Regions from separate parts of the Homo sapiens genome. Here all the other regions are linked to region 3. Evidence: fine-mapped expression QTL. A gene starts in region 3. Each other region holds a variant in brackets. All regions are shown on one strand. Distances are from middle to middle.

The links.
Region 1: its variant is fine-mapped to the expression of PRDM4 in left ventricle (GTEx, PIP above 0.99). The same link has a PIP of 0.9 or more in stomach and visceral fat.
Region 2: its variant is fine-mapped to the expression of PRDM4 in whole blood (INTERVAL, PIP 0.93).
Region 4: its variant is fine-mapped to the expression of PRDM4 in whole blood (TOPMed, PIP above 0.99).

Annotation. Positions count from the first base shown.
Region 1 is chr12:107,570,849-107,578,848 of GRCh38, forward strand. The region is part of intron 3 of ABTB3 (ankyrin repeat and BTB domain containing 3); the gene reads left to right. Among named protein-coding and RNA genes, the nearest start is that of PWP1, 110 kb to the right of the region's middle. The variant C/T (reference allele first, on the strand shown) is at 3,126.
Region 2 is chr12:107,723,765-107,731,974 of GRCh38, forward strand. No RefSeq gene overlaps it. Among named protein-coding and RNA genes, the nearest start is that of PRDM4-AS1, 8.7 kb to the right of the region's middle. The variant A/G (reference allele first, on the strand shown) is at 3,163.
Region 3 is chr12:107,757,845-107,766,054 of GRCh38, forward strand. PRDM4 (PR/SET domain 4) reads right to left here and starts at 3,293. Exons shown (of 12, transcript NM_012406.4): 1 at 3,113-3,293; 2 at 2,661-2,927. The coding sequence starts at 2,671. It overlaps PRDM4-AS1 (PRDM4 antisense RNA 1), which reads left to right. Exons shown (of 5, transcript NR_120474.1): 4 at 431-548; 5 at 1,928-2,124. RefSeq lists silencers at 2,844-2,953, 3,004-3,583.
Region 4 is chr12:107,535,667-107,543,666 of GRCh38, forward strand. All of the region lies in intron 2 of ABTB3 (ankyrin repeat and BTB domain containing 3), which reads left to right. Among named protein-coding and RNA genes, the nearest start is that of PWP1, 150 kb to the right of the region's middle. RefSeq lists an enhancer at 2,274-2,838. The variant G/A (reference allele first, on the strand shown) is at 4,083.

The DNA.
Region 1 (8,000 bases), 190 kb before region 3:
TGAGGTCCAAAGCACCAGGCCCCAGGCTTCCTCTGGGCCTCTGTACACATGCTGTTAGCCTCTGCCTGGAAATGATATAGTGAATGGCTAATAGGCCTGGCTCTGAGCCCAGCTGCCTGCAGTATATCCTGGCACTGCTGTTTATAACTGTGTGTCCTTAGGTAAGTTAGATAACCTCTCTGTACCTCTATTTTATTATCTAATAATAGCACTTACTTCAGGGCTCTTGTCATTATCAAATGAGCTAACATCAGAAAAATGCTCAGAGCTTGCTTCACATATAACAAACCCTCAATAGTAGCTAAGTTTGTTGAGCATTTACTATGTGCTAAGCACCTTACTGACATTCTCTCCCTTAATCTTCACAACAATGCTGAGGTGTGGCCTTACAATTCCCCTGTTTCACATATGAGGAAACTGAGGCACAGAGATGGGGAGTAGTTTGCCCAAGGTCCCACAGCTAGCAAATGATGAAGCCTGGGCACAAACATCTTCAGAGTACATACCCTTACTACCACATCAGCACCAGATGTGAAGGTGTAGTGGGTTTCCTTTGTAAGGCTGTGTGCTGCCTTTTGCTACTTTTTATGATTTTGTTTTTGGAGGCAGAAGCAGGCCCACATGGCCCCTAGGAGCCCACCCTGGCTTTTGCCTCTTGGCCCTGACCAGGCCCGTCCCTGCCCTTTTAGGCTTCTAGAGCCACCTCTCCCAGGATATGAAGCTGTACAGCCTCTGCTGCTTCCTGGATGTTTATTTTTTGTGCCCAAGCCTGCAAGGCGTGTTTCGCGGCAGCCTCACACAGAGTCTGTGGCTTCTCCACTTCTGAGGCTGCGGCTCCCCTCCCAGGGCCATTTATATCCTGGGCCCCATCATCATCCAACCCCATTTGAGATCAGGTTCCTGCCACAGAGGCCTCTGCCTTCCTTAACCAGGCTGGTCTGTGGCATAGGCAGCAGCTAGCGGAGAGAGGCACAGGCTGGCTGGCTGGTCCCCACATGGTACGTGATGGACACTGAGCTTGCTGAGCATCCTGCAGTTCAGAGCTGGCACTCTCTAGACCTGATGGTCTCAGCCTTTGGTCGGCATCAGAAAATACCTACAGAGAATAAGAGATAAGATGCAGATGCCAAGTGCAGCAGGCTAAATCACAAATAGCTCCAAAATGATCAAGTCCTAATGCGCAGAACTTGAAAATGCTACTTTATAAAGAAAAACAGTCTTTACCTATGTGATTCCATTAATGTTGACATGAGATTCTCCTAGATTATCTGAGTGGGCCCTACATCTCATCACAAGTATCCTTATAAGAGAGAAGGATGCTTGACACAAAGAAGGAGAAAGTAATGCAAGACAGAGATAAAGACTGGAGTGACTAGCCACAAGCCAAGGAATGCTAGCTACCACCAAAAGCTGAGAGGGGCAAGGAATGGACTCTCTCCTAGATCTCCATGAGAGAGGGGAGGGCCTGCAAACACCTTGATTTTGGACTTCTGGCCTCCAGAGCTGTGAGAGGCCAGAAGTCCAAAATATGGCCACCAGATTGTTGTTTCAAGCCACCAAGTTTGTGGTCTTTTGCTACAGCAGCCATAGGAAACTAACACACCAAGCAAACGGGCACAGACCCGGGAATATCCATTTTCACCAGCTCCCTAGGTGATCTGGAGACTCCCTGAAGATGGGGAACTAGATGGAGCATCCAGGCTGATGCTCCAGGAGGACCATGAATTCTTACAGTTTTGCTCACATCCTATTTAAACTGTGAGAGCCTGGAGCATGTTGAATGCCTAAATACCGATGGGAAACATACAGAGAGGAGATGGTGGTTGAAGTCATGGGACTGCAGGGAGATAAATGATTGAGCCAAGTCCCCAGGGAAGCAGAAGCAGGGAAGAGAAAAGGAATCCTTCTCTGGGATGGGAAGGGAAATGAAGCCTAGAGGATGTGTAGCTGTTTGCAGGCAGGGTCAAGGTTGTTGTTATTCATGTATTATTTTTGCTCGCTCTGCCTAGACCTGCCTGTCCTCAGTACTGCTTGCAGCCCTCAGCCCTCTAAGTCACCTTTCTTAGGATGTGCAGCTGGAAAGCCAGAGATGCTTCCTTGGTCAGTCACGTGCGTCTGGGCACTATCTGTAGAAATCACCTCCTCACCTGTGCCCTTTGCCATTTGCCCCATTTCAGACAATTTATGTAATCACTCATAAGTGGCACTGACCTTCACGCTGCAAAAGACTTGTACTTTGGTACAAAATGGCTTACTTTTCCCTAAAAGCACTGACTCTATCCATGAGGCCTCTGTTTCATGGTTCCCAAGTGGTGTATTGTGCATAATCAGGGTGTGGGGAAGTCATCCTCCATGGGATCTAGCACCTGAGCTTCCTCCCTACCTCAGCCAATTGTGCATGATGGTGAGGGAGGAAGAATCAGCAGTAGAAAGAGAAGGCTATGTCCCTGCATGCAACTAAATCCCATTGCAGATGTGTGTCAGTCAGGTTTCTCCAGAGGAACAGAACCCATAGGATGTGTGTACATGTTGGCGGAAAGAAGGGGAGATTGGACGGATGGATGGATGGATGTGTGGGTGGATGAATGAATGGATGGGTGGCTGGGTGGATGAATCGATGGATGGATGGATGGATGGATGGATGGATGGATGGATGGATGGATAGATGGAACAGATGGTGAGTGGACAGATAGACAGATAGACAGATTGATCAACACACACATATATTACTGGTTTTGTTTCTCTGGAGAGCCCTGGCTAATATGCTTTATATACACAACACAGATTTAAGGAATTGGCTTACAAGATTGTGGATACTGGCAAGTTCAAAATCTGCAGGATAGGTCAGCAGGCTGGAGACCCAGAGAAGAGTTGAGGTTGCAGCTCAAGTTCAAATGTATTCGACTGGCAGAATTCTCTCTTCTGGGAAAAATCAGTTTTTTTCTCTTGACGCCTCCAACTGTTCGGATGAGGCCCACCCATGTTATGGATGATAATCTGCTTTACTCAAAGCCTACTGATTTAAAGGTTAATCTCATCTAAAAATTCAGAGTAATGTCCAGACTACTGTTTGACTAAATATCTGGATAATGTGACCTAGCCAAGTAGATACATAAAATTAACAT[C/T]ACAAGGTGTCTTTCTCGAGTGTTTATATTCCCAGGATGATACTAAATACTGCTATGAATACAAAATAGTCTGCAGACAATGCTTGGTTCAGAACAAACTCCCCAAGACTGAAGGGCTTCACAGGGTTGTTGGAAGACTAAATGAGAATCCAGGTGGAGACAGAACCCACCTTTATGATAAAAACTGAAGCCTCCAGGCACTAGCTTTTCCCAGCCTCACTTGCAGCTTGGCAAAGGCTCATGAACCAGGCTCGGCCAATCTGATGCACCAGCTCAACTCCTTCTATTCCATTGTCTCCTGGACCTGTGACCCCTTTTCCTCCCCAACTTAAACACAATAACAAAATTCACCTTCCCTGGTTTCTGACTTGAGTCATGATTCTCTGTAGGTCATGGTTACTCAAAATATGTTCCATAGACCAGCAGCTGCATTATCACCTGGGAGCGCATTAGAAATGCAGAATCTCAGCTGGGTGCGGTGGCTCATTCCTCTAATCCCAGCTCTTTGGGAGGCCAAGGCAGGTGGATGACCTGAGGTCAGGAGTTCGAGACCAGCCTGGCCAACATAGTGAAACCCTGTCTCTACTAAAAATACAAAATTAGCTGGGTGTGGTGGCACATGCCTGTGATCTCAGCTACTTGGGAGGCTGAGGCAGGAGAATTGCTTGAACCCAGGAGGCAGAGGTTGCAGTGAACCAAGATCACTGCGCAACAGAGCGGGACTCCATCTATAAAAAAGAAAAAGAAAGGAAGAAAGAGAAAGAAAGAAATGCAGAATCTCAGGCTGTGCCCCAGACTCTCTGAATCAGGATCTGCATTTTAACAAGATCCCAGGTGATTCAAAGGCACAGAAACATTTAAGAAGCACTGACCTAGAACACTACCTTGGCTCCTCCCACTCCAGGCCATCTGCAGAAACCACCCTCGTGGGCAGTTGGACTATGCCTTGCACAGTAGGGCTGTCACTATAGTAACCAGCTGTGGCCACCTCTTACCTCTACCATCTTCCCGGCTTTGGTGCCCACAGATGCAGTGATGTTACAATGAGCATTGCTATAGAAACCAGCACCGAATATGGTCTACTATCAATTTAGCTGCTTTTCCTTCACTCTCTGTGTCTCTGGAATTATGAGCTTCCTAAACCACAAATATCGAAATTCCTTTCCAGTCTAAGAAACACTCAACAAATAACAAAGATGAAAAGTCAGGGCCACACAGTTTACAAAGGGAAGGCTATAGCATCTGCAGAGGTTTGCATCTATTTGTAAAGAAAAGGCAGGAACATCCCTCTATGTCGCTCTGTGTAGCAAGGCCTTTTCCTGCACCTGGCAGGGAGAAGATGAGTGATGCTAAAAACAATGTTGGTGATGATGATAATAACAGCCCCCATTTATTGAGCACTTTCTCGGTACCAGGCGCCACGCTAAGTACATCATCCCGTTCAATTCTTCCAATAACCCTGTTTATTTGTTCCCTGTGACTGCTGTAAAAAATTACCACACACGGACGCTTAAAACAACACAAAATTCTTCTCTTAACAGTTCTGGCAGCCAGAAGTCTAAAATCAGCCTCACTGGGCTAAAGTCAAGGTATAGGCAGGGTTGGTTCTTCCTAGAGGCTCTGGGAAAGAATCTATTTCCTTGTCTTTTCCAGCTTCTAGAGACTGCCTGCATTACCTAGCTCATGGCCCCTTCCTCTCATTACTCCAACCTCTTCTACTGCTTCTTTTCCTTTTTCCTTTGACCTTCTTGCCTTCCTTTGATAAAGACCCTTGTGATTGCATTTAGGGCCCACCTGGAGGCTCCTGAACTTAATCACACGTGCAAGGTCCATTTAGCCAGTTAAGGCAGCTTTCACAGGTTCTAGGGATTAGGATGTGGACATCTTCGGTTAGGGGTGGGAGGCATTCTTCAGCCAACCATACCCTCTGAGGTGGGTGCTATTATTATCCCTATTTTCCCAATGAGAGAACTGAGGCATGACACTTGAAATATCTTGTTCAAGCTCCCACTGCTAGAAGGTAGAGCTGGAATCCAGTTCCAATCAGTCTCTCTCCAAAGCCCGTGCTCCTAACCACAGCACTGTACAATCTTCAAATGGCTTTGACCCCATCCCCTACTGCACTAGGTTGAAGGAAACAAACCAAACACCATCAGCTTTCTAAAGAGTTTGAGCTTCCAGTTGAAGCCCCTCTACTGAAGACTGAAACCTCAAAATAGGATTTCTTGGTTTGGGGTACTGACCTAGAACACTACCTTGGCTCCTCCCACTCCAGGCCAAGTTTTCTTCAAAATGTCAAACCTCAAGTATATTAGTTTGCTGGGGCTGCCATAACAAAATGCCATGGACTAGGTGGCTTAAACAACAGAAATTGATTTTCTCCCCATTCTGGAGGCTGGAAGCCCCAGATCAAGCTGCTGGCAGGGTTGTCTTCCTCCAAGGCCGCTCTTCTTGGCGTGCATGGCCACCCTCTTGCCCCACTGTGCACACACAACCCTGGTGTCTCTCGTGTCCTGATCTCCTCTTCTTCTAAGGACATCAGTCAGACTGGATTAGGGCCACTCTAATGGCCTCATTTTAACTTCATTACCTCTTCAAAGGCTCTCTCTCCAAATACAGGCATATGCTGAGTACTGGGGGTTAGGGCTGCAACATAGGAATTTGGGGGAACACGGTTCAGCCCATAACAACAGGTAGTTTCTCTGAACCCTGGAACAAGGCAGTTTAGCATGTGAGATGAATTCCTGAGCCCATGGATGTCCTCACTCCTAGGTTCCATACCTACTCCGCACTCTTTACCACGTCTCCAACCTCACCCTCAGCAACTCTTGATATCTTTTAATCTACTACCTCTGGATATGCCTGTGGCTCAAGCATCCAACCATGACCTCTTTGTGGGAGGGTCCTATCTTCTGATCTCCCCAAAACTTTCTGTCCCTATCACTAGGACCTTCATGGTCTTCTCTCCATCTTCCCTAGTCTACACACTAGGTACTTCCTAAGGCCCCAGCAACTGGCTTTTCCAATAGAATCGAAGAATATTAGCATTGGGAAGAACTGAACAGGCTAATGGTAGCCACCTCTGACCTACCATCTGCATTTGTAAGTAAAGTTGTATTGGAACCCAGCCAAGCTCCTTCATTTGTGTATCATCTGTGGCTGTTCTCACTGCAATGTCAGAGTTGAGTAGTAGCAACAGAGACTGACCTTATGGCCCACAAAGCCTAACATACTTACTAGTTAGCCTTTTACAGAAAAGGTTTGCTGAGCCCTGAAATAGATCATCTGATGCAAACCCACCCCACTTTACAGGTGAAGACACTGAAGGCCAAAACGTTGATGGGCCAGAGGAGCCCTCCAGTGAGTTACGGGCAGATCCAGGGCTGGGATTCAGTTCTGCAAAATCCCAAACCAGGCCTTTCTCACATCCTGTAACATTCTTTCTAGTACCCAGACTCCCCAGCCAAACTCCTTTTCCATCCTGGGTGGTCAGCCTCATCACCAGCTCTCTCTTCACCATTTCAGAGAAAGGCCATGTCCGTGTATGTTCTCCATCTCCTACTTGAATCTGGGCTTAACAGCCTTCCTGAGCTGACATGCTGGCTTGACTCTGCAGGAAGCCCATCAAGGCTTTCTCTTTCCTTCCAGAGCCTCTAGTCGCACCCTATATACCTCTCCTAACACCACAGTGAAGATGTAGATGGCCACTGTCCTGTTTGAGTGGACCATCTCCCTCCTCTGCTCATCTCAGGCCACGTGGTTGGGGATTAACAAACCTGGCTTGCTGCAGAATTTCCAGGGGAGCTTATTTAAAATGCAGATGCCCAGGCCCTACCCCAAGACTTATGGGAGCCAAACTCTGGATGTAAAATCATGGCTGTTGCCATTTTAACAAGTTCTTCATGTGCTTCTGATGTTCAACAAAGTCTAAGAACCACTTCACTAAACCATGAGCTCCTCAAGCTTCTTTTGGGTTTTAGTCACTTCAAACAACTTCAGAATAAAGGAGACAACCAGTGGAACATTGTTCTCTTAAAAAAAAAAAGTATAAAGAGAATGCAAGATTTTTTCTTCAGCATTCTCCACCCTCTCCTTGACTCAGAGCCCTCGAATTCTTTCCCATCTCCAATTCCTCCAAAGAAAACATACAAATAATGCTATTTTTTCCCCTCTGAGTAGACAAGATAAGAAGATTTTTAAATGAGTTACTGGCAAAGAATTCATGAGCTTATATACTATTAAGGTCAGAGTGACAAGAAGAAGGCAATGTTGAAAGGAGAGAATAGGTACATAGAAAATTCCAGGAGAGGCTGGAATCCTGAGGTTCAAGGTGTCTTATTCTGGAGCTTGCCAGCTGTCTTGGTAAAGGTGTTATTTTTGAAGGCAGCAGAGCCTTTTTCTTTCTTCTTCTTTTTTTTTTTTTTTTTTTTTTTTTTTTTTTGCTATTCTTTGGCATTCACCAGGCATTGGCCGTGTGCCCTGGGCCTCGCTTGGCATCTAACATGAAAGGCAGCAGCCCAAGGGCAGTTCTGTGATGGAGATGCAGCCCCCCAGGGACTCAGGGTTGTGGACTGTGCTCTGGGGCCACTGAGCAAAGGAATGATGAGGGGAGGCGCCTCTGAAACTTAACCCAGAGAGTTCTCTGAGCATTTGGGGCTGGTTTCCAACAATAATGGAGACACTGTGACAAAAATAAGTTCTGCTCACCTGAGACAGTAGAATCCAATTCAATTTCAAGTCAGCGTGTGTTTATTGAGTGCCTGATTCAGTTTAGGTGATGGAGAGAATGGGAGAATGAGGGAGACAGCCTAAGAAGCAGGCTGATTCAGGCAGAAAATCCTTGGGACTCTGCCCCACAGATAGGTCCACAGGTCC
Region 2 (8,210 bases), 34 kb before region 3:
ACACATAATTGTCAGATTCACCAAAGTTGAAATGAAGGGAAAAATGTTAAGGGCAGCCAGAGAGAAAGGTTGGGTTACCCACAAAGGGAAGCCCCTCAGACTAACAGCGGAACTCTTGGCAGAAACTCTATAAGCCAGAAGAGAGTAGGGGCCAATATTCAACATTCTTAAAGAAAAGAATTTTCAACCCAGAATTTCATAACCAGCCAAACTAAGCTTCATAAGTGAAGGAGAAATAAAATCCTTTACAGACAAGCCAATGCTGAGAGATTCTGTCACCACCAGGCCTGCCCTACAAGAGCTCCTGAAGGAAGCATGAAACATGGAAAGGAACTGGTACCAGCCACTGCAAAAACATGCCAAATTGTAAAGACCATCCCTGCTAGGAAGAAACTGCATCAACTAACGAGCAAAATAACCAGATAACATCATAATGACATGATCAAATTCACACATAACAATATTAACCTTAAATGTAAATGGGCTAAATGCTCCAATTAAAAGACACAGACCGGCAAATTGGATAGAGTCAAGACCCATCAGTGTGCTGTATTCAGGAGACCCATCTCACGTGCAGAGACACAGATAGGCTCAAAATAAAGGGATGGAGGAAGATCTACCAAGCAAATGGAAAACAAAAAAAAGACAGGGGTTGCAATCCTAGTCCCTGATAAAACAGACTTTAAACCAACAAAGATCAAAAGAGACAAAGAAGGTCATTACATAATGGTAAAGGGATCAATTCAACAAGAAGAGCTAACTATCATAAATATATATGCACCCAATACAGGAGCACCCAGATTCATAAAGCAAGTCCTTAGAGACCTACAAAGAGACTTAGACTCCCACACAATAATAATGGGAGATTTTAACACCCCACTGTCAACATTAGACAGATCAATGAGACAGAAAGTTAACAAGGATAGCCAGGAATTGAACTCAGCTCTGCACCAAGCGGACCTAACAGACATCTGCAGAACTCTCCACCCCAAATCAACAGAATATACATTCTTCGCAGCACCACATCACACTTATTCTAAAATTGACCACATAGTTGGAAGTAAAGCACTCTTCAGCAAATGTAAAAGAACAGAAATTATAACAAACTGTCTCTCAGACCACAGTGCAATCAAACTAGAACTCAGGATTAAGAAACTCACTCAAAACCGCTCAACTACATGGAAACTGAACAACCTGCTCCTGAATGACTACTGGGTACATAATGAAATGAAGGCAGAAATAAAGATGTTCTTTGAAACCAATGAGAACAAAGACACAACATACCAGAATCTCTGGGACACATTTAAAGCAGTGTATAGAGGGAAATTTATAGCATTTAAAGCAGTGTGTAGAGGGAAATTTATAGCACTAAATGCCCAAAACAGAAAGCAGGAAAGATCTAAAATTGACACCCTAACATCACAATTAAAAGAACTAGAGAAGCAAGAGCAAACACATTCAAAAGCTAGCAGAAGGCAAGAAATAACTAAGATCAGAGCAGAACTGAAGGAGATAGAGACACAAAAAACCCTTCAGAAAATCAATGAATCCAGGAGCTGGTTTTTTGAAAAGATCAACAAAATTGATAGACCGCTAGCAAGACTAATAAAGAAGAAAAGAGAGAAGAATCAAATAGACGCAATAAAAAATGATAAAGGGGATATCACCACCGATCCCACAGAAATACAAACTACCATCAGAGAATACTATAAACACGTCTATGCAAATAAACTAGAAAATCTAGAAGAAATGGATAAATTCCTCGACACATACACCCTCCCAAGACTAAACCAGGAAGAAGTTGAATCTCTGAATAGACCAGTAACAGGCTCTGAAATTGAGGCAATAATTAATAGCTTACCAACCAAAAAAAGTCCAGGACCAGACGGATTCACAGCCGATTTCTACCAGAGGTACAAGGAGGAGCTGGTACCATTCTTCTGAAACTATTCCAATCAATAGAAAAAGAGGGAATCCTCCCTAACTCATTTTATGAGGCCAGCATCATCCTGATACCAAAGCCTGGCAGAGACACAACAAAAAAAGAGAATTTTAGACCAATATCCCTGAAGAACATCGATGCAAAAATCCTCAATAAAATACTGGCAAACCGAATCCAGTAGCACATCGAAAAGCTTATCCACCATGATCAAGTGGGCTTCATCCCTGGGATGCAAGGCTGGTTCAACATACGCAAATCAATAAACGTAATCCAGCATATAAACAGAACCAAAGACAAAAACCACATGATTATCTCAATAGATGCAGAAAAGGCCTTTGACAAAATTCAATAGCCCTTCATGCTAAAAACTCTCAGTAAATTAGGTATTGATGGGACATATCTCAAAATAATAAGAGCTATTTATGACAAACCCACAGACAATATCATACTGAATGGGCAAAAACTGGAAGCACTCCCTTTGAAAACTGGCACAAGACAGGGATGCCCTCTCTCACCACTCCTATTCAACACAGTGTTGGAAGTTCTGGCCAGGGCAATCAGGCAGGAGAAAGAAATAAAGGGTATTCAATTAGGAAAAGAGGAAGTCAAATTGTCCCTGTTTGCAGATGACATGATTGTATATCTAGAAAACCCCACTGTCTCAGCCCAGAATCTCCTTAAGCTGATAAGCAACTTCAGCAAAGTCTCAGGATACAAAATCAATGTGCAAAAATCACAAGCATTCTTATACACCAATAATAGACAGAGAGCCAAATCATGAGTGAACTCCCATTCACAGCTGCTTCAAAGAGAATAAAATACCTAGGAATCCAACTTACAAGGGATGTGAAGGACCTCTTCAAGGAGAACTACAAACCACTGCTCAACGAAATAAAAGAGGACACAAACAAATGGAAGAACATTCCATGCTCAAGGATAGGAAGAATCAATATCGTGAACACGGCGTTACTGCCCAAGGTAATTTATAGATTCAATGCCATCCCCATCAAGCTACCAATGACTTTCTTCACAGAATTGGAAACAACTACTTTAAAGTTCCTATAGAACCAAAAAAGAGCCCACATTGCCAAGTCAATCCTAAGCCAAAAGAACAAAGGTGGAGGCATCATGCTACCTGACTTCAAACTATACTACAAGGCTACAGTAACCAAAACAGCATGGTACTGACACCAAAACAGAGATATAGACCAATGGAACAG[A/G]ACAGAGCCCTCAGAAATAATACCACACATCTACAACCATCTGATCTTTGACAAACCTGACAAAAACAAGAAATGGGGAAAGGATTCCCTATTTAATAAATGGTGCTGGGAAAACTAGCTAGCCATATGTAGAAAGCTGAAACTGGGTCCCTTCCTTACAGCTTATACAAAAATTAATTCCAGATGGATTAAAGACTTAAATGTTAGACATAAAACCACAAAAATCCTAGAATAAAACCTAGGCAATACCATTCAGGACATAGGCATGGGCAAGGACTTCATGTCTAAAACACCAAAAGCAATGGCAACAAAAGCCAAAATTGGCAAATGGGATCTAATTAAACTAAAGAGCTTTTGCACAGCAAAAGAAACTACCATCAGAGTGAACAGGCAACCTACAGAATGGGAAAAAGTTTCTGCAATCTACTCATCTGACAAAGGGCTAATATCCAGACTCTACAATGAACTCAAACAAATTTACAAGAAAAAAACAAACAACCCCATCAACAAGTGGGCAAAGGATATGAACAGACACTTCTAAAAAGAAGACATTTATGCAGCCAACAAACACATGAAAAAATATCATCACTGGCCATCAGAGAAATGCAAATCAAAACCACAATGAGATACCATCTCACACCAGTGAGAATGGTGATCATTAAAACGTCAGGAAACAACAGGTGCTGGACAGGATGTGGAGAAATAGGAACACTTTTACACTGTTGGTGGGACTGTAAACTAGTTCAACCATTGTGGAAGACAGTGTGGTGATTCCTCAAGGATCTAGAACTAAAAATACCATTTGACCCAGCCATCCCATTACTGGGTATATACCCAAAGGATTATAAATCATGCTGCTATAAAGACACATGCACACGTATGTTTATTGCAGCACTATTCACAATAGCAAAGACTTGGAACCAACCCAAATGTCCATCAATGATAGACTAGATTAAGAAAATGTGGCACATATACACCATGGAATACTATGCAGCCATAAAAAAGGGTGAGTTCCTGTCCTTTGTAGGGACATGGATGAAGATGCAAATCATCATTCTCAGCAAACTATCACAAGGACAGAAAACCAAACACTGCATGTTCTCACTCATAGATGGGAACTGAACAATGAGAACACTTGGACACAGGAAGGGGAACATCACACACCAGGGCCTGTCATGGGGTGGGGGGAGGGGGGAGGGATAGCATTAGTAGATATACCTAATGTAAATGACAAGTTAATGGGTGCAGCACACCAACATGGCACATGTATACATATGTAACAAACCTGCACGTTGTGCACATGTACCCTAGAACTTAAAAGTATAATTTAAAAAAAAAGTGTCATTTCCTTTGAGAAGCCTCCCCTCATCTCTGTAGCCTGCATAAGATACCCCTGCTGTGTTAGAATGTAATTTGTCTTACTCCTTTTAAAATTTTGTAATTACTTATTTAGTAGTCTCCCTCATTAGATTTTTTTTTTTCTTTTTCAAACGCAGTCTCGTTGCCTTGCCCAGACTGGAGTGCAGTGGAGTGGTCTTGGCTCACTGGAGCCTCCACTTCCTGGGCTTCAGCGATTCTCCTGCCTCAGCCTCCTGACTAGCTGGATTACAGGCATATGCCACCACACCTGGCTAATTTTTGTATTTTTAGTAGAGATGGGGTTTCACCATGTTGGCCAAGCCGATCTTGAAATCCTGGCCTCAAGAAATCCACCCGCCTCGGCCTCCCAAATTGCTGGGATTACAGGTGTGAGCCACCGTGCCCAACCCCTTGTTAGATTTAGTATGAAGTAATAGGATTTTGCTTTTTGTGTTACAAAAATCTAGCTAACTGGGATGCCTTACCACTTGATATATTCAGAATGTCTTTTCCCAGCATTCATAGCAAGCAACCATACATACATAGTCTCAGGGCATTTCTCAAGTCTTACTAATCAATTTAAAAAACTTGATTATTATCAACCACCAAAATGAGAGTACTGAGCCACCCAAGCTAGATGACTTTTCCGTAATCATGCTAATAACTCTATGCCACAGAATACAGTAGAAAAAGCATCGAATGCAGAGCTAGGAGGCCTTACTTTCCAATCTCACACTTCAGTAACTGCATTAACTTCTGGGACATTCTGTGGCCTCGGTAAAACAAAGATATTAAAACCTACCCTACAAGGTTGTTATTGTGAAGTTAAAGCACTTAACTTATAATAAACTTACTTAAGTTACTCGAGTTCTCTTCCTTTCTTTCGAATGGTTACTTCTCAGCTTAAAATCAAATTTCCTGGTCACAAGCCATTGCTTTTCCTTAAATACACACTTCTCCAGCCCTTAAAGTCTAACGTGTTCCTTTCCCAAAGAAACAAACAATGCTGGATGAATAGACCATCCTGCTTTTCTCTTGCTATGAAACATACTATTTGCACACTGGCACGGTGGGAATTTTAGATGCAACGTAGCCTGGCTCCCTTTCTTTTTGCTACAGCACATCTGGGTCAGGCATCTTGAATAAGTCCCTTAACAGAATATTATGTCATCTCACATGCTTTTGAATAATTCACTTGTCATAACTGAGTGGTAGTTGGCTCTAATCAACTAAGAGCAATGACCCACAAAGGTGTTCTATGCTTATAAAAAACAGATTCCACAACCCCAGTGCAAATATGCAACTAAGTGTAAGCAGCAGTGTGATGCATCCTGAAATGAGGTGTGTCAGAACAACAGCAGCGTCTAAATAATGTTTCACGTAGATTAACATGGAAGAGAGCCCTGGAAGAGAAATACAGGCATTTTTAAAAAGTGCTCCCAGGCAGCCAATCAGTGAATATGAAATGCAACAAACTGGTTTTTTTTTTTTGTTTTTTTTGAGATAGAGCCTTGCTTTGTTGCCCAGGCTGGAGTGCAGTGTCACAATCTTGGCTCATTGCAACCTCCGCCTGCTGGGTTCAAGTGATTCTCCTGCCTCAGCCTCCTGAGTAGCTGGAATTTACAGGCTCCCACCACCATGCCCAGCTAATTTTTGTATTTTTAGTAGAGACAGGGTTTCACCATGTTGGCCAGGCTGGTCTGGAACTCCTGACTTCAAGTGATCCACCTGCCTCCCAAAGTGCTGGGATTACAGGTGTGAAAAGTGTAATTTTTCTGAACTTCATTTTCAACATCTAGACAACTGAGGGTAAAGCCTACTTTTATAATGCCCTATGAGGAGTAAAACTATAAATTAAAATGTACTACCACTAGAAAGCATATTTGCAAGCAAATGTGTCACAAGGTCCTAGGCAGTGCTAGCTAAGAGGGGCCAGAAGTTGTGTCTATTAACCAATTAACAGATCATTCAAGAAGTAAAATTTCCCAAAGTAAGTGACTTTCACCTTAGGTGATTTTTCTTTCCCAAATCTGGCCCTAAACTGATCTTGATGCTTGCCCAACCCCAAAGCCCATGCCCAGCCTGAGCCTCAGCAAGTATGTAGCAGCACAAGATGTGCTGCAGGGTGAGGAGGCAGGTGCTGGGGGCAGAAAACACAAAGAACAAAGCATGCTTTCCATGTGCTCCCTAACTTGTGGATATAAATATGCATTGTCTAAATGGAATAGTTTAGAGTTTATGTGATTTCCTTTAAAGACTTGTAGCCTGGGCCAGGCACGGTGGCGCATGCCTGTAATCCCAGCACTTTGGAAAGCGGAGGCAGGCAGATCACCTGTATCCAAAGGCAGGAGCAGAGCCCTAGTTATTTTTCTGTTCCCCCTACAATGCCTTAAAGTGTACCAGCACTTAATAAATGGTTTTTGAAAAGACCACTCTCCTTGTCTGAGGACTACACAGGCCTGAGTGCCTAATGATCCTCAGTGTGCATATGCAAGAAAAGCTAAGGAGCAAAAAAGCTGTTAAGGAGTGGTTTCACCCCTTTCAGTAGTAGGGAAATTTGCTGGCGGCAATATACACCACTAGAAATGGTGCCTGCCTTTATATTGCTCATGCTAATCTGTAAAGCTGGGGTTAAACTGAAGTCACTATACTGGAAGCTGCTCCCCTTTAAGCAATCATTATCAAGAACGTATATCTGGTTAGACTGTTTAGTTTGCCAGGGCTGCCACAACAAATTGCCATGGACCGGGAAGACTAAACAGAAATGTATTGTTTCCCAGTTCTGGAGGCTGGAAGTCTGAGATCAAAGCAATGGCAGGACTGTTCAGAGGGCTGTGAGGGAAGGACCTGTTCCAGGCCTCTTTCCTTGGGCTTGGAAATGTCTTCTCCCTGTTTTCACATCATCTTCCCTCTGTATAAGGCTTTGTCCAAATTTTCTTTTTCTAAGAACACCAGTCATATTGGGTTAGGTCCTAACTTAAGGACTTCATTTTAACTTAATTCCTTCTTTAAAAACCGTATCTCCAACTACAATCACATTTTGAGATTACTGGAGGTTAGGACTTCACCATATGAATCTGGTGGTGTTGGCAGGGGGCGGTGTGTTCACCTGTAACAGACCATAATCACTTGTGTATATGGAGATATGTCATTCCTTAGTGTGTGCCTCCAAGTTTGGTGATCAGATCATCAAGTTTACATACTTGATGAGGTGCTGACAGCCTCTGGCATGTTTATGCTTCTTGAGACACAGGTAAAGGAGTGTTTACTAGAAAGCGGGGACACAGGTCAAGCGTGAAAAGGCTGACGAAGACTCTACTTCCTGTTACCTCTTTGCCCTCTGAGAATCTCAGCACAACAAAAATGCCAGGATTATGAGCCACTGACCTTTTTGAGAAGGAAATGCCAAGCATACAGTGAGCTGCAAGAATACTCTGAACTAGTTTATAGGCTTTGGCCTTGAAAACTCAAATTATTCCAGTTTTATTTATATTACTAAAATCTAGAGCTTCTTGGATATTCTATATGTCAATTTTTTTTAGTGTAGAAACCTATGTTAAAATGAAAAATGTAGACTAATGGGAAACTAAAGAATATCAGCTACTGTTTATGTTGAGCACTGTGGGAGCCACTGACACGTATGAACTTAACATCTAAACAGTATAATGAAGCGGCGCTCTTAATACTCT
Region 3 (8,210 bases):
GAGTAATACTGATTTGAATAAAACAGCACTGAAGGTTGTTATCAAAAAGTATTAGTTCTTATATCATAATTTAGAGACTGCCATACTATAAACATTACAGAACCACTAGGCTAGCCAACAGGTTACCCAAAAGGGGCTCTCTAATGACCTCCAGTCCTTACACTGGGCTTTATTCTCTGCGTATGGGAGGGGGTGAAGCAGAGAAGAGGAATCAAATGAGGTTACATATTCCTTAGCAGTGAAATCAAATCTAAATAGGTTTTTAATTCTGAAAAATGGCAATGCCATTTTATCAATCAACCTGAAAATAATAATAGCTAAAATTTATGGCTCCCTTACCATGTGCTATGTATTGGGCTAAGTGATTTATATGTAACTATCTCTCTTAATCTTCTTTTTTTTTTTTTTTTTTTTTTTGTTTTTGAGACAGGGTCTTGCTCAGTAGCTGCAAGCTGGAGTGCAGTGGCGTGATCACAGCTGACTGCTGCCTCTACCTCCTAGGCTCATGAGATCTTCCCACCTCAGCCCCCAAGCAGCTGGGACCACAGGCAAGTGCCACCATGCCTGGCTAATTTGTTTTTATTTTGCAGAGATGGGGTCTCCCTATGTTGCCCAGGCTGGAGGTAGGTATTATTCTTAATCCCACTTTAAAGATGAGGAAACTTAAGATTCAATGATGCTAGGAAACTTAACCCAGAATCACATAACCAGTAAGGAGAGCTGGGATTTAAATTCAGAACTAATTTAAGAAACCAAAGCTCTTAACTATAGTAAGAAAAAGACAATTACAATAAAAGAACTATATTGCCTTTTACACAGTTGCAATACATTAGGGCCTATCTACTTATATTGTGGCGTATATTTAAAGTTCCACATAGACCTGTTTCTTGCATTATTAGGTTTCACCCTTATCCCTGGCCATGGATCCCATAAAACTAAGCTCTAAGACATCAATAAAATGTAAAAGGCCAACCTAGTACCTTGTATAGAACAGACATTCTGAATTTTCTTATTTTATCGGATGGAGCTATGCAAACTCATCACCCTTACCAGAAAGACAGCTAGAAGCACCTGGCAAATGAGGTACACCTTATGAAGAACAGCATGCTAATAACAGTTTTTATTATGCTATAAAATAAAGCAGCCCAGGTGTGGTGATTTACACCTGTAATCCCACACTTTGGGAGGCCAAGGCAGAAGGATCGCTTGAGCCCAGGACTTGGAGACGTCCCTAGGCAACACAGTGAGACCCCTGTCTCTACTAAACATTTTTTTTAACTTAGCCAGGCATGGTGGTTCGTGCTTGTGGTTCCAACTACAGGGGAGGCTGAAGTGGGGAGGTCGGGGCTACAGTGAGCTCTGCCTGTACCTCTACACGCCAGCTGGGGTGACAGAGTGAGACTGTGTCTTAAAAACAAAAAAAGCAAAAAATCCCTGTAGCCTAAAGAAAACATATCTACCTTAATTTTGAAAGTTGCTGGGCTTGAGTTGGTTTAAAACAGACTTTTCCCTAACTCTTTATAGCTACAACCATAATTAAAACACTACAATCACTACAGCTGTAACAGCCTACTTAACAAATTGGTTACAATATTTTTTTAAAAGTACAACTACAAGTCTGCACCTTCAACTCTCATTCTGAAAATTCCTGAATATTTATTTAATTTCAAGATAAAAATCAGCATGGTGTTTCTAGGTTGACTCCTAGGCCTTCTCAAACCAGTTCAAACCAGAGTTTAATGCGAGAGGCTCAGCAGATTTCTGCTTTGTTGTGAGTCACTAAAACGTGATGACCTCAGCAGCCATAAACCAAAGGTAATGAGTATCCCACAGAGAGAAGGCAGATGAAGGGAATGTACAATATGATCCTCATAAGACTTTCTCATTCTAAAATGCAGTTCTATTCTCATTTTCTTTCTCCTATGAGATTCTAAGAAGCAATCCCGGAAGAAGGCAAGAATCAAGATACTAAGCTCTATCTTCCCTACTCATTTAGGGTAAAATAATTTCCTACACAGTTCTACAGTTTATGTGTGTGTTTCTAACTGACCTATGCAACCATCTGCCAGTTGCTGATTTTACACCTTTTTCTTCGCATAAAATATAATAAACTAACTGAAATGCAGCCACTTTGAAAAATGCAGTGGGGCTTCAATAATTTCAATGAATTTGTGCCTTATCTTCCTTATTCTAAACATACGGCCTTTGAAAGGGCCTTGAAAAAACAGCCAAATGCAACAATTTCTGTGGCCTGCTTCTGTACTTAAACATCAGCATGAAGCTTGCAGAATTAAGAACTTAATTCCCTCACTATCGTCCCTGCCATACCAGCAAAACTCAAGGTGAAGCATAATAAGATAACAATACACGTTGGAATCCGGAAAAATATATTAAACGCTCAAATAACTGAAAGACACAGGAAAAGGTGTCAACAAGCCAACAATAAACGTGTGGCTACTGGGAACAACTTTCCACATGTGGAGTAAATTAGGATGCATGAGATTACATTCCACCCAACACTAGTTTCTGGATTTGTTTCCTTTGCAAATCACACCTGTAACCTTCTCAATGGCACCAAAAACAACGGCACTGACCCTGGACACTCACTCGCCAGAGTTTCCAACGATGTCACCAGTGCTGAAGCCCACCTCCCTACTCACCTGTGATGCATCGGCTTGGGGCCAAATATCAGAGAAAGGAGCGCTCGGGTGGTGGGGAACAGGCATCAGGGTTTGCGTTCCAGGGTCACGTGCTACCACATCTTGCTCACAACCGCTGCACCGACGCGGCCACTCGTCCCCGGGGTCGCCCGGGGCCGCCCAACTTCTCCCGAGGGCCGGTGGCCGTGCACCCCGCCACGGGTTGGGGCATCTCGGGGAACACCTGGGGCCTTCCGTCCAGAAGCTTCGGGAAGGGGGCTGCCCAACCTGGGGGAGTGGGGACAAGAGCGGTCACCAAAACCACAACAAGGTCGCAGCCCCCATCCCAGCTACCCGAAAGCCCCAGGCGCTGCCGACACCGCCACCCAAGGGCTGTGGATTAGCCCGCCCGCGGCCCGCAGGCCGGGCCGCCGCGCCCCGCCCCGCTCCGGCCGGGCCCGCGCGCAGCCCACCTGCCAGCTGCGCTGGGGGCGCACGCGCCTGCCCCACTGCTTTGTTCCTCATCCGGGCAGAGTTCGCCTCGGGGCCCTGCCCGTCCGCTCGGCCCCCTCACCCCGGGGGCCGCTGCCCTAACGTTTCCCGTCCCGCCCGGCCCTTCCCGGCCCGCGGCCTCCTCTGGGCCGCACCCTCTGCGGCGCGTTTCCGGATCCTCAGCCACTCTCAGCGCCCGCCGCTCCGCCCCTCGTGCGTGCGCCCTCCCCGCCGCGGCCCGCAAGCGGCGCCCGCGCACCGCGTCGCCCTTCTCCCAGCCCAGGCCCCTCCGCGCGTGCGCACGGCAGAGGCACTGGCCGCGAGAGGCTCGGCCGGGAGTTCCGCGTCTCCATCCGGCCGGGTAGAATCGAGCGCCGAGCGATCGGCCCATGGTTGCTAGGCGACCAGGGCTGCTGTTCCTGCAGGGATTGAGTTTTGAATCCCCTAAATCCCGCAGACTCAGGATTTCGTCTTCATGACATTCCCCTACTAGAGAAGCATGGGTCCACACAAAGCCCCCAAAATTCGAAGTATGGGATTTGGCCCCGAGGGTTGCCTCTGCTGCCCAGGAGGAATTGGGATTCTATCCTGAATATTTTCGGCCGTCTGCTACACCTGAAGGCTGCCCAGTTTCCCTGCTTCCCGTCGTAAATGCTGGGGTTTGGGATTTTAAACAAAATTTCCTTCCCCTTTTCTCTGCCCTCAGTTCTCTACTGCGCGCCAGGCACTGTGCCTAACGCTAGGAGTACCGAGATGGCTTTAAAGGAAGGTGGTCCCAAGCTCCTGAGCAGTAGACGTTGAAATTACACCACACTGCCTGGTGGCTCCCTTACACCAGCAGAACAGCAGACCCAGGAATTCTTCCTGTCATTCACAAAGCGTCTGTTGAATTACATCTCAAACCTAGGGATACAGAGCAAGGCACAAGCCCTGACCTTCACCTGCCTGCAGTCTAGTGGGAACTGATGAATTTTGAAAATTCAGTCTAATGTGAAAGGGTAGAGGCACATGCAACCTTTTGGACGAGAGCTGGGAGGGGTGTCAACCCCCATAATGTTTCCCTTCGTTTACTTCTCATGGGGGGAAAGCACATTCCAGATGAGGAAACTTCACTGAACATTGGCAGGCAGGTCACATTGGTTTTGCTCTCTGTTGACAACAAATAGAAATCTAAATCAAGAAGGTCATCATCTCAACTGAGAGACAGTATTCCCTGAAATGCCACTTCAAATCTGGAGCCTAGAGAATGATGATGTATCTTATTACCGGCCGAATGCTTTCACTAGGTTTGGGTTTGGATGTCTGTTCTTTTGGAACAATTTTATTAAGTTGAGAGGTGAACATAAAAATCAGGTCACATAAATGTAAGAGCTAAAACCATAATACTTACAGAGGAAAATAAAGGCAAAAATCTTTGTGACCTTGATAGGACAAAAAAATCACAAACTATTAAAAAATTGGAGCAAGTGCAGTGGCTCTCTCCTCAGCACTTTGGGAAGCTGAGGTAGGAGGATCGCTTGAGCCCAGGAGTTTGAGACCATCCTGGGCAACAAAGTGAGACCCTGTCTCTACAAAAAATAAAAAAAATTAGCTGGGCATGGTGGTATGCACGTGTAGCCCCAGCTACTTGGGAGGCTGAGACAGGAGGATAGCTTGTGCCCAGGAGTATGAGGTTGCAATGAGCTAAGATTGTGCCACTGCACTCCAGCTCAGGTGACAGAGAGAGACCCTATCTCAAAAAAAAAAATGACAAATCGAACTTCATCAAAATTAAAATGGTTGATCTTGAAAAGATACTGTCAACAAAATGAGTCAAGTGAGAGACTGGGAGAAAATATTTTCAAAACAAATATCTGACAAAGGATTTGTATCTTGACTATATAAAGAACCCTTTAAACACAATAATAAGAAGACAATTAAATTTAAAAACTTAGGCAAAAATTTCAACAGCCATTTCACCAAAGAAGCTATATGGATGGCGATTAAGCACACAAAAAGATGTGCAGCATCATTAGGTATCAAAGAAATGCAAATCAAAGCACAATGAAGTGATATTACACACTTACTAGAATGGCTTCAATTAAAAAGACCAACTATAACAAGTGTTGGCACAGATATGGAGCAACTGGCACCCTCACATTTTGTTGGTGGGAATGCAAAAAAAATGCCACAGCCATTTTAGAATTTCTTTCTTTTTTCTTTCTCTCTTTTTTTTTTTAGACAGAGTTTCACTGTCACCCAGGCTGGAGTGCTGTGCTGTGGTCTCAGCTCACTGCAGCCTCTGCCTGCTGGGTTCAAGTGATTCTCCTGCCTCAGCTTCCCCAGTAGCTGGGATTACAGGTGCTCACCAGCATGCCTGGCGAACTTTTGTATTTTTAGTAGAGATGGGGTTTCACCATGTTGGCCAAGCCGGTTGCGAACTCCTGACCTCAAGTGATCCACCTGCCTTAGCCTCCCAAAGTGCTGGGATTACAGGCATGAGCAACCATGCCTGGCCAGCAATTTCTTATACCTCTTATACCATCCAATTCTCCACACTCCTTAGGTATTTACCAAAGAAAAATAAAAACATATGTACAAAGACTTGTACGCCAATGTCCATAGCTGCGTTATCTGTCATAGGCCAGAACAGGAAATGACCCAAATGTCCATCAACTGGTAAATGAATAATGATAGTGTACAGTATCTATACAGTGGAATACTCAGAAATAAAAAGGAACAAGCTGTTGATACATGGATGGATCTCAAAGACGTATTATGCTAAGTGAAAGGAACCAGACACAATAGACTACATATTATGAGTCCAGGTATGAGAAATTCTAGAAAAGGCAAAACTGTAGTAATAGAAAGCAGAGAAGTGATTGTCAGAAGTTGGGAATGGGTTGGGGGATGAGATTGCCTACAGTGGGGGCATAAGAGAACTTTTAGGAGTGATGAAAATGGTCTTGATTGTGGTAGAGGTTACACAATTGTATACATCTGTCCAAATTAATCAAATAGTAAACTTGACATTGGTGAATTTTATTGTATGTAAAAATACCTCAAAAATTCAATTAAAAAATTATGTCAAGATTAACAAAAATTGAAGTGTTCTGACTCTACTCCCCAGACTAGGCCCACTGTATGCTCTCTCATAGTACCTATCTTTATTGTAATTAATTGTTTAATTTTCTATTTTGCCAAATACATTTTAAATTTTGGGGAGAAGATTCATGTCTATCTTATTTAATGCTATACAACATAGCACTATACCTGGCATATATTAGATATTCAATGAATTTCTGATGCCTGAGGGAAAGTCAAACTGGCATAATTTGAAGCCACACATATTGACTCATATATCTATTTACTTGGAGATGTACAGCAAATGTTTGCTCAAAGATTGCCTTAACTGCTGATTTAGGGTGACTTACCCCTTTAAGGAGACTCCATGGTGCTGTTAAGACAATAAAGACAATGGAAAGGCCAGACACAGTGGCTCACACCGGTAATCCTAGCACTTTGGGAAGCCAAGTCTGGTGGATTTCTTGAGTCCAGGAGTTCAAGATCAGCCTGAGCAACATGATGAAACCTTGTCTTTACAAAAATCAGCCCGGTATGATGGTACATGCCTGTGGTCCCAGCTACTTGGGAGGCTGAGGTAGAAGGATACTTTGAGCCTGGGAGGTTGATACTGCAGTGAGCTGTGATCAGGCCACAGCCACTGCACTCTGGCCTGGGCGACAGGGCAAGACACTTCCTCAAACAACAACAACAACAAAAATGGGAGAAACTGGCCAATCACACAGGTAGAAATGAAGAGCGTCGGTGTGGCAGAACAATGAGGATATGTTCTGAGGAATGCAACCTTAGGTGATTCTGTGGTTGTGCAAACATCATAGAGTGCCCTTACATATACCTAGATGGTCTAACCTACTACACCCCTAGGCTAGATGGTATGGCCTATAGCTCCTAGGCTACAAACCTGCACAGCATGTTACTGTACTGAATACTCCAGACAACTGTAACATCGTGGTATTTGTGTATCTAAACATATCTAAACATAGAAAAAGTACAGTAAAAATACAGATAAAAGATTAAAAAATGGTATGCCTGTATAGGGCAGCTTCATTATAATCTTATGGGACCACTCTTGTATATCCAGTCTGTCGTTGACCAAAACATCATTGTATGGCACAGGACTGTATTAGTATGACTGTGAAATAATGATGGAGAGTATAGTCAAGGGTAGAGCTTAGAGGTAATATCAGTGAAGACAACCAGATAACAACCACTAAGATTTTTCCTGGACATCAGGGATAGACACAGAGAGCAAATTACCTTTAAACATTATTTCCTAGCACTAAAGACGAGAACAGTAATGGGTAAACTTGGCCCCAGATTTAGCTGATCAGGGTATCTTACTTTTAACTGACCCTAATTAAGTTTTCAAATCTTGCTTCCTATTCCTTATGGTAAGGAGGATCTGGAAATAAAGACCTTTTATGTGGGTAAACCTGCTCTTTGGCATTCTTGGGATTCCTGCCCATAAGTTTGATACAATTATAATGTATAATGTAAGGACTGACCTCCTTTATTTAATATTTGCAGAGAGGCATAGAGTTTATTCTACAAATGTTTGTTGAGTGTCTACTCTGTGCCAGGCATTGCTCTAGGAACTGGGAGTATATAGTAAACAAAACAGGCAAAAAATACCAGTTCCTCTGGAGCTTACATTATAATGGAAGAAGATAGATAATAAAGAAATAAATAATTAAAATACACAATATTCCAGATAGCAATAAATAACATTAAAAAAAAGAATGGCTGGAAAAATGGACAGAAAATGCCTGGGGATGGGCCTGCAATTTTAATAGGGTAGACAGAGAAGTCATCACTCAAAAGGTGACATTTGAACCAAAGGAGAGGAGACAGTGATCCATGCAAACATCTAGAGGAAGAATATCTCAATCAGAAAGAAGGTCAAGAGCAAAGGCCCTGAGGCAGGACACTGCCTGGCAGATTTGAGAAATTGCAAGGACACCAGTGACTCTAGAACTGTATTGCCTAGTGTGGTAGCTGCTACCCACCTGTGGCTAT
Region 4 (8,000 bases), 220 kb before region 3:
AATAGCTACAAAAAAATTGCCTAGGGATAAATTTAACCAATGAAGTGAAAGATCTCTACAATGAAAACTACAAAACACTGATGAAAGAATTGAACACAGAAAATGGAAAGACATTCCATGCTTATGGATTGGAATAATTAATATTGGAAAATTACCATCCTACCCAAGAAATCTACAGTCAGTGCAATCCTTATCAAAACACCAATGACATTCTTCAAAGAAATCGAAAAAAACACCTTAAGGTTTATATGGAAATACAAAAAACCCTAAATAGCCAAAACAATCCTAAGCAAAAAGAGGAGGCATCATACTACTTGACTTCAAAGTATACTAAGCAATAATAACCAAAACAGCATGGTATTGGTATAAAAACAGACACATAGACCAATGGAACAGAATAGAGAACCCAGAAATAAATCCATATTTCCAGCCAACTGATTTTCAACAAAGGCACCAAGAACATATATTAGGGAAAGGACACTCTTTTCAATAAGTGGTGCTGGGGAAACTGGATATCCATATCCAGAAGAATGAAACCAGATCCCTATCTCTCACCATATACAAAAATCAACTCAAAATGGATTAAAGACTTAAATGCAAGGCCTGAAATGTAAAAATCCTAGAAGAAAACATAGGGGAAATGCTTCAGGACATTGGTCTAGGCAAAGATTTTAGAGGTAAGACTTCAAAAGTACAGGCAACAAAACCAAAAATAGATAAATGAGCCTATATCAAATGAAAAAGCTTCTGTGCATCAAAGGAAACAATTAACAAATTGAAGAGACAGCCTATGGAGTGGGAGAAAATAGTTGCAAACTATTCACCTGACAAAGGACTAATGTCCGTAATAGACAAGGAACTCAACCTCAAAGAGAAAAAAAAATCTGATTTTAAAGTGTGCAAAAGATCTAAATAGACATTTCTCAAAAGAAGACATACAAGTAGCCAACAAGTATATTTTTAAGTGCTTAACATCAGTAATCATCGAGGAAATGCAAATCAAAACCACACTGAGATATCTCACCCCAGTTAGAGTGGCTGTTATCAAAAAGAAAAAATAACAAATACTGGCAAGGACGTAGAGCAAAGGGAATCCTCACACACTATTAGTGGGAATGTAAATTAGTACAGTCATTATGAAGAACAGTGTGGAGGATCCTCCAAAAACTAAAAATAGAACTGCCATATGATCCAACAATTCCACTACTGGGCATTTATCCAAAGGAAAGAAAATTAGTATATCCAAGACATGTCTGCACCCTCATGTTTATTGTAACACTATTTATAAAACCAAGATGTGGATCAACCTATGATGAATTCATCAACAGATGAATGGATAAAGAAAATGTGTATATTTATACAATGGAATACCACTCAGCCATTAAAAATGAAATCCTGTCATTTATGGCGACATGGATGAAACTGGAGAACAATATATTAAATAAAATAAGTCAGGCACAGAAAGATAAATACCACATGATCTTCTTTGTATATGGAATCTTAAAAAAAAAAATTGAGCCCATAGAAGTAGAGACTAACATTATAGACATTAGAAGCCTGGAAGAGTAGCGGGGATTAGAGGATAGGAAGAGGTTGGTTATGGATACAAACTTACAGCCAAATCAAGAACCAAGTTCTAATGTTCTATTCCACTGTAGGGTGAATATAGTTAACAATAATGTATAAGTTCAGAAAGCTAGAAGAGAGGATTTTGAATGTTCCAAGCACAAAGACATGATAAATGTTTGAGGTGATGGATATGGTAATTACCCTGATTTGATCATCATACATTATATACATGTATCAAAATATCACTGTGTACCCCATAAATATGTGCAATTCTTATGTGTCAACTGAAAAGGAAAAAAAAAGAAATAGAATTGCTTCTCAGGTCTTCCTGATGGCAGCCTTCCCCCTTGGCTTTTCCTCCACCCTCCCTTGCTCACTCCAGGCTGTCTGCAGCACAGCCTTCCTCCCAGAGGACAGTGAGTGTCAACATGGCTCAGTTACTGGGCAGCCCACACCCTTCAAACTACTTCTCTTTGGGGACAGTGGAGGCCAAGTCTACCTCAGATCTGGCCAACCTCAGAGCTTCTCAGACTCTGCCCTCCAAATGCAGATTCACAGGAATTCCAGCCTCTGCAAGTTCGTCCCGCAGTTTTTCAGAGTCCCCAGGTGGCATCTGATGTGTAGCCACCACTTCCTGCCAGGCTGTGGCCCAGCTTAGGGCTGCCCACAGCCTGCGGCCTTGGCCTCCTGTGAGCCTGCATGAGCCTATGGCTGGGGCTGCCTTGGAAGACTCTGACCTCCCAGCCAAGGGCACGACTGGGAAGTCTCCAGGCCTTTCCAAAGCTACTGCCATCAACCCTGCCTCCATGGTCTATGCAGCTCTTCCCCACTCTATGCCCACCGAGAATGCCACTACCAACAGATGCCAGTGGAAGGGGTGCTGACCTGTTCTGCCAAAACCCTAGGGATGCAGAAGCAGCTTGGGATCTCCGGAGGCTGTGCTGCCCCCAGGGCATGAAGACCCCTGCCTTCACAGGGCAGCGTGGTGTGGGGGAGAGCCAGATGGCAGCAGCTTCCAGGCCAGTTATTGGACTCAGTGGCAGTGTAATTTCAGTCTTATTAGTTCTCTGTGCCTCACTTTCCTCATTTGTGAGATGCATATGCTAGCAGGACCAGCCCCATTGGGTCATGTGGCACTTAAATGGGTGTAACAGGTCTAAAGTGCTAAGAATTATCCTGCACACAGGAAGCACTAGCTGTTGGTTTGCTGTCATCCACCTTAGCCTCCTCTGGTGATCCCAGAGCTCAGCTGTCTGGGCTCCTCCAACTTTTCATAGCTTTCAGGGAGCAGCTCTTTGAGCTCTGCCAGGGGCCAGGCAGGAAGTCTGATCAGAGAGACCAGGATTCTGTTGATTTCAGCACCAGCTTCCTTCCAGGCCTCCGTTGTTGTTGAGTTGCTTCTTCTACCCCTCCAGGCTCTTCCTGCTTGGTGATTTATTTCTTACAGCCTCCTTGGTCATTTATGCAGGTTGACCATCAGCCACCCCGCTGTCCTCCAGACAGACACCAATGGGGTAGACTCTGAGAACCCCAGGCTGGAAGCTCTGCTCCATCAGCAGAGGCCAACCAAATTCCTGAGCCCCCACCCCACAAAGTGGGCCCCACTCTGGAGTCTGTGACGGCACAGACTTTGGGAGATGTTTGGGATTTGAGCCTCAGACTCTTCGTCAGACTTTTTAAGGGCCACACTCAAAACTGGGTTCTAGATTTGTGCCTTTTTGGAGGCACTGTGTCATAGTGACAAAGAACACAAGCCCACATTGTGTGTCCAACTCCAGGTTGGAGTCACAGCCTGCCACTTGCTGAGTGACACCTGGGCCAGTTGCCTCCTCCCTCAATTTTCCCATCTCTGAAATTGATATAATAATGCTCACCTTGTGTGGCTCTTATATAAATCAAATAGAAAACGTGTCTAAATGCCCGGAGACATGGTAGGTGCTCAGCATATTGGGGCTTCTACCTCTGCTGTCTCTTCTTCCTCTACTCCAGGTCACTGTCCTCACTGGAAAATTAAAAACATTGTCTCAGTGCCCGATCCCACCCCAGGCCTCTATCTTTGAGTTTTCTTCTAGGTCCCTTCCCAACTTTCACTGATTGGGAGCTCTTATTCTGACCAGTGGTTGGAGCTTCCCCTTACTAGGCTAAAGTGATGTGAATGCCCGGAGGCAGGCACCCAGCTTAGCTTCCTTTTTTTTTCTTCCTCCCAGGGAGTGCAATCTCTAAAACATGAGAATGGAGAGAAAAAGGAAGCAGTAGCAGCTAAGGATCTCAGTGCACCCCAAAGGGACCCCAGGAATGAGCAGCTTTGCAGTGTAGAGTCCTAAAAAAGTCAACCCCAGCATGAAGCAGCAAATCAGGTGCTCAGCGTTCAGAATGCTGGCAGGACTACCCCTCTCTGTCCCATGTACCCAGCATCCTGGTCTCACCACTCAGAAAGGAGGAAGAGCAGGCAGCCCATGAGCCCAGGAGAACTGCTTATTCAATGCCAAGTATGCCAGGCATTTACACATTTT[G/A]CACTTAACCCTCATAACCACCTGAGAGGTGAAGATTATTCCTCACCTGAGAGGTTAAGTGACTCGCCTGTGTTTACACAGGCTGGAGCTGAGATTTGAACTCTTTCCTCTGATCCCTGCTTAACTTTCAGCAGTAGTTCCCCACGTTTTCCATCTGCAGCTGCCCTTATGTCTTCCCTGTGATCTGCCTCTAAAAGAGAATGTCCTTCCTTGATGCTTTTAAAAATTTCTTGGATGAATTTTCCAGCTGTGGGAAATGGAGAGTGGAGAGGCAGGCTCAGGGCTGGGTATGTGAAGATGCAGAGAGATGTAGGGATATAACCCCCTGCGTTAGTCTATTTGTGCTGCTCTAACAAAACTCCTGAGACTGGAGGATTTATAAAGAACAGAAATGTATTTTCTTATAGTTCTGGAGGCTGGGAAGTTCAAGATCAAGATGCCAGCCAGGTCAAGGTCAGGTGGTCTGGTTCTCTCTGCCTCCAAGATGGTGGCTTGTTGCCATATCCTCATATGGCAGGAGGTGGAAGGGCAAGAGAAGAAGAGTGTTCCAGCTCCAGAAGAGAGAGAAAGAGAAAATTTACCTTTCCTGTGCCTTTTTGTTCTATCCAGGCCTCGGCCACTTGGATGGTGCCTGCCCACACTGGGTGAGGACAGGTCTTCCTCACTCAGCCCACTGATTCAAATGCCAGTCTCTTCTGAAAATACTCTCACAGACACACCCAGAAATAATGCATTACCGGCTATCTAGGTGTCCTTTAATCCAGTCAAGTCGACTCCTAAAATTAACCATCATACCCCTTGCTGCCATCTGCACAAGGCCCTGATCTGTTGGCCAGGCACTGAGCTCAGTGGATCGTAGTCTAGTTAGGCTGTCCTGACGAAGCCTTAGGACTTAGATAACATAGAGCTTTCCTTTATTTCGACAACTCCTATTAGAAATAGGGGCTGCTTGTGGCTGGGTGCTGTGGCTCACTCATATAATCCCAGTACTTTGGGAGGCTGAGGCAGGAGGATCACTTGAGGCCAGAAGTTCGAGACCAGGCTGGGTATGAAAGCAAGACTCCATCTCCACTACAAAAAATTAAAAAAATAAAAATTAATAAATAGCCGGGCATGGTGGCTTGTGACTGTAGTTCCAGCTACTTGGGAGGCTTAAGTGGGAGGATCGCTTGAGCCCAGGCTGCAGTGAGCTATGATCACCCTGCTGCACTCCAGCCTGGGTGAGAGAGTGTCTCTTAAAAAAGAAAAAGAAATAGTAGCTGCTTGGAATCTTGTCTTGAGAAGGACTTTAGGGCTGCATCTATAATCAATCAATCAATCAAGAGCTCTGTGAACCTCATTCCCATAATCAACCCCCCTAAAGCTGGTGAACAGTCCTCTTGTCAGTCATCTTTTGAAGTAGTGGCCCCTCCCTCAGACAGGAAACAGGAAGCCAGGAGATGAGTCCTAAGCCTTCGGAGGAGAAACTCCTGCCTCTCACTTTGCCTCACTTACTCGAATTTGGATGTTAGGTAAATGTGTCACGTTGAAAGGTACAGCAGGATGGTGGAGAAGGGGTGAGATCTAAAGGACTGGTTTCAGCTGGACAATGAGAGGGAATGGGGGAGCCCCAACAGGGGCTAGCATCATGTCAGATATCGTATTAGTCAGCATTCTCCAGAAAAACAGAACCAACAGGATTTCTCTCTCTCTCTCTTTCTCTGTAGCGAGATAGACTGAGAAAGTCATTTATTTTAAGGAATTGGCTCATGTGATTGTGGGAGCTGGCAAGTCCAAAATTTTGCAGTGCAGGCCAGCAGGCTGGAGATTCTAGTAAAAGTTGTTGCAGTCTGGAGACGGAATGCTTTCCTCTTCGGAGAACTTCAGTCTTTTCTCTTAAAGCCTTCAATTAATTGATGAGGCTCACCCACACTGTGGGAGGTAATCTGCTTTTCTCAAAGTCTATTGATTTAAATGTTAATCACATCTAAAAAATACCTTCATAAGGGAACAATAGACACTAGGGCCTACCTGAGGGTAGGGGATGAGGGGGCATGAAGACTGAAAAACTACCTGTTGGGTACTATGCTGTTTACCTGGTGACAAAATAATCTGTACACCACACTCCTGCGACATGCAATTTACTCATGTTACAAACCTGTATGTGTACCCCCGAACCTAAAATAAAAGTTGGAAAGAAAAAAAAAAAACCTTCTTTATAGCAACATCTAGACTAGTGTTTGATCAAACAACTGGGCACCATAGCCTGGCCAAGTTGACACATAAAATTAACCATCACTGGCCAGGCGCGGTGGGTCACACCTGTAATCCCAGTACTTTGGGAGGCCAAGGCGGGCGGATCACCTGCGGTCTGGAGTTCGAGGCCAGCCTGGCCAACATGGTGAAACCCCATCTCTACTAAAAATACAAAAAAATTAGCTGGGAGTGGTGGTGCATGCCTGTAATCCCAGCTACTCAGGAGGCTGAGGCAGGAGAATTGCTTGAACCCGGGAGGCAGGGGTTGCAGTGAGCCGAGATCGCACCACTGCACTCCAGTCTAGGCAACAGAGCGAAACTCTGTCTCAAAAAAAAAAAAAATTAACCATCACAGATATCTTAGGCGGCTGTCTCCCAAAGTACGCAACATATTCTGGTGTGCATGAGATGATCGTAAGTAGGACAGGGCAAGTGCATTAAATAATATTGATTATAGAGTGATTCTTTTACATTCATTTGAATCTTAATTACTTTAAAAAGAAAGGCTCCATTTGATATCAGCCCCTAACACTTCTGTAACACCTGTTACGTATAAAAAGGAAAACGGGGCCAGAATTCAGCTAGAAATTAATTACATTTGATCCTTGAACAATCTGGGACTTAGGGGCACTGAACCCCTATGCAGTCAAAAATCTCTGTGTAACTTTTGACTCCCCAAAAGCTTACTACTAATATCCCACTGTTGACCAGAAGCCTTACTGGTAACATAAACAGTCCATTAACGTGTATTTTATGTTATATTCTTATATATGATATTCTTACCATAAGTAAGCTTGAGAAAAGAAAAAATTATTAAGGAAACCATAAGGAAGAGAAAATGTACTTACTATTCATTAAGTGGAAGCAGATCATCATAAAGGTCATCATCCTTGTCATCTTCATGTTGAGTAGGCCCAGGAGGAGAAGGAAAAGGAGGAGTTGGTCTTGTTGTATGATGGGTGGCAGAGGTGGAAGAAAATCCATGTATAAGTGGATCCAAGTAGTTCCAGCCTGCATTGTTCAAGGGTGAACTGTACACTGTTTTGTTGTCATCAAATTTACTTTTATAGGGCAGAGCGTGGTGGCTTATGCCTGTAATCCCAGCACTTTGGGAGGCAGAGGCAGGCAGATCACCTGAGGTTAGGAGTCCAAGAGCAGCCTGGCCAACATGGTGAAAACTCATCTCTACTAAAATTACGAAAATTAACCGGTTGTGGTGGCAGGCACCTGTAGTCCCAGCTACTCAAGAGGCTGAGGAGGCAGGAGAATCGATTGAACCCGGAAGGCAGAAGTTGCAGTGAGTGGAGATCATGCCACTGCACTCCAGCCTGGGCAACAGAGCAAGACTCCATCTCAAAAAAAAAAAAAAAAAAAAGGAAAAAAAACACGAAAAGTACAGTGTGATAACCCAAGTAAGGGCAGGGTGGTTCTAGAGGGGGTTTCCTAGAGGAATTAATTTATAAGCAGATACCTGGATGATCAGTAGGAGTTAGCCTGGAGAAGAAGAGGGAGAGAATGTTCTGGACAGAGGGAATAGCATATGTACAAGGCTCAGGGGCAATAGAGAGCATAGCCCATTCTTGTGACTACAGTTAAAGCAGTGTTGGCCACAACATAGAGGGTGTGTCACAGGGCGAGGGAGGCAGTATGCAGGAACGGGACGCAAAGGGCTTCCTGAGCCTT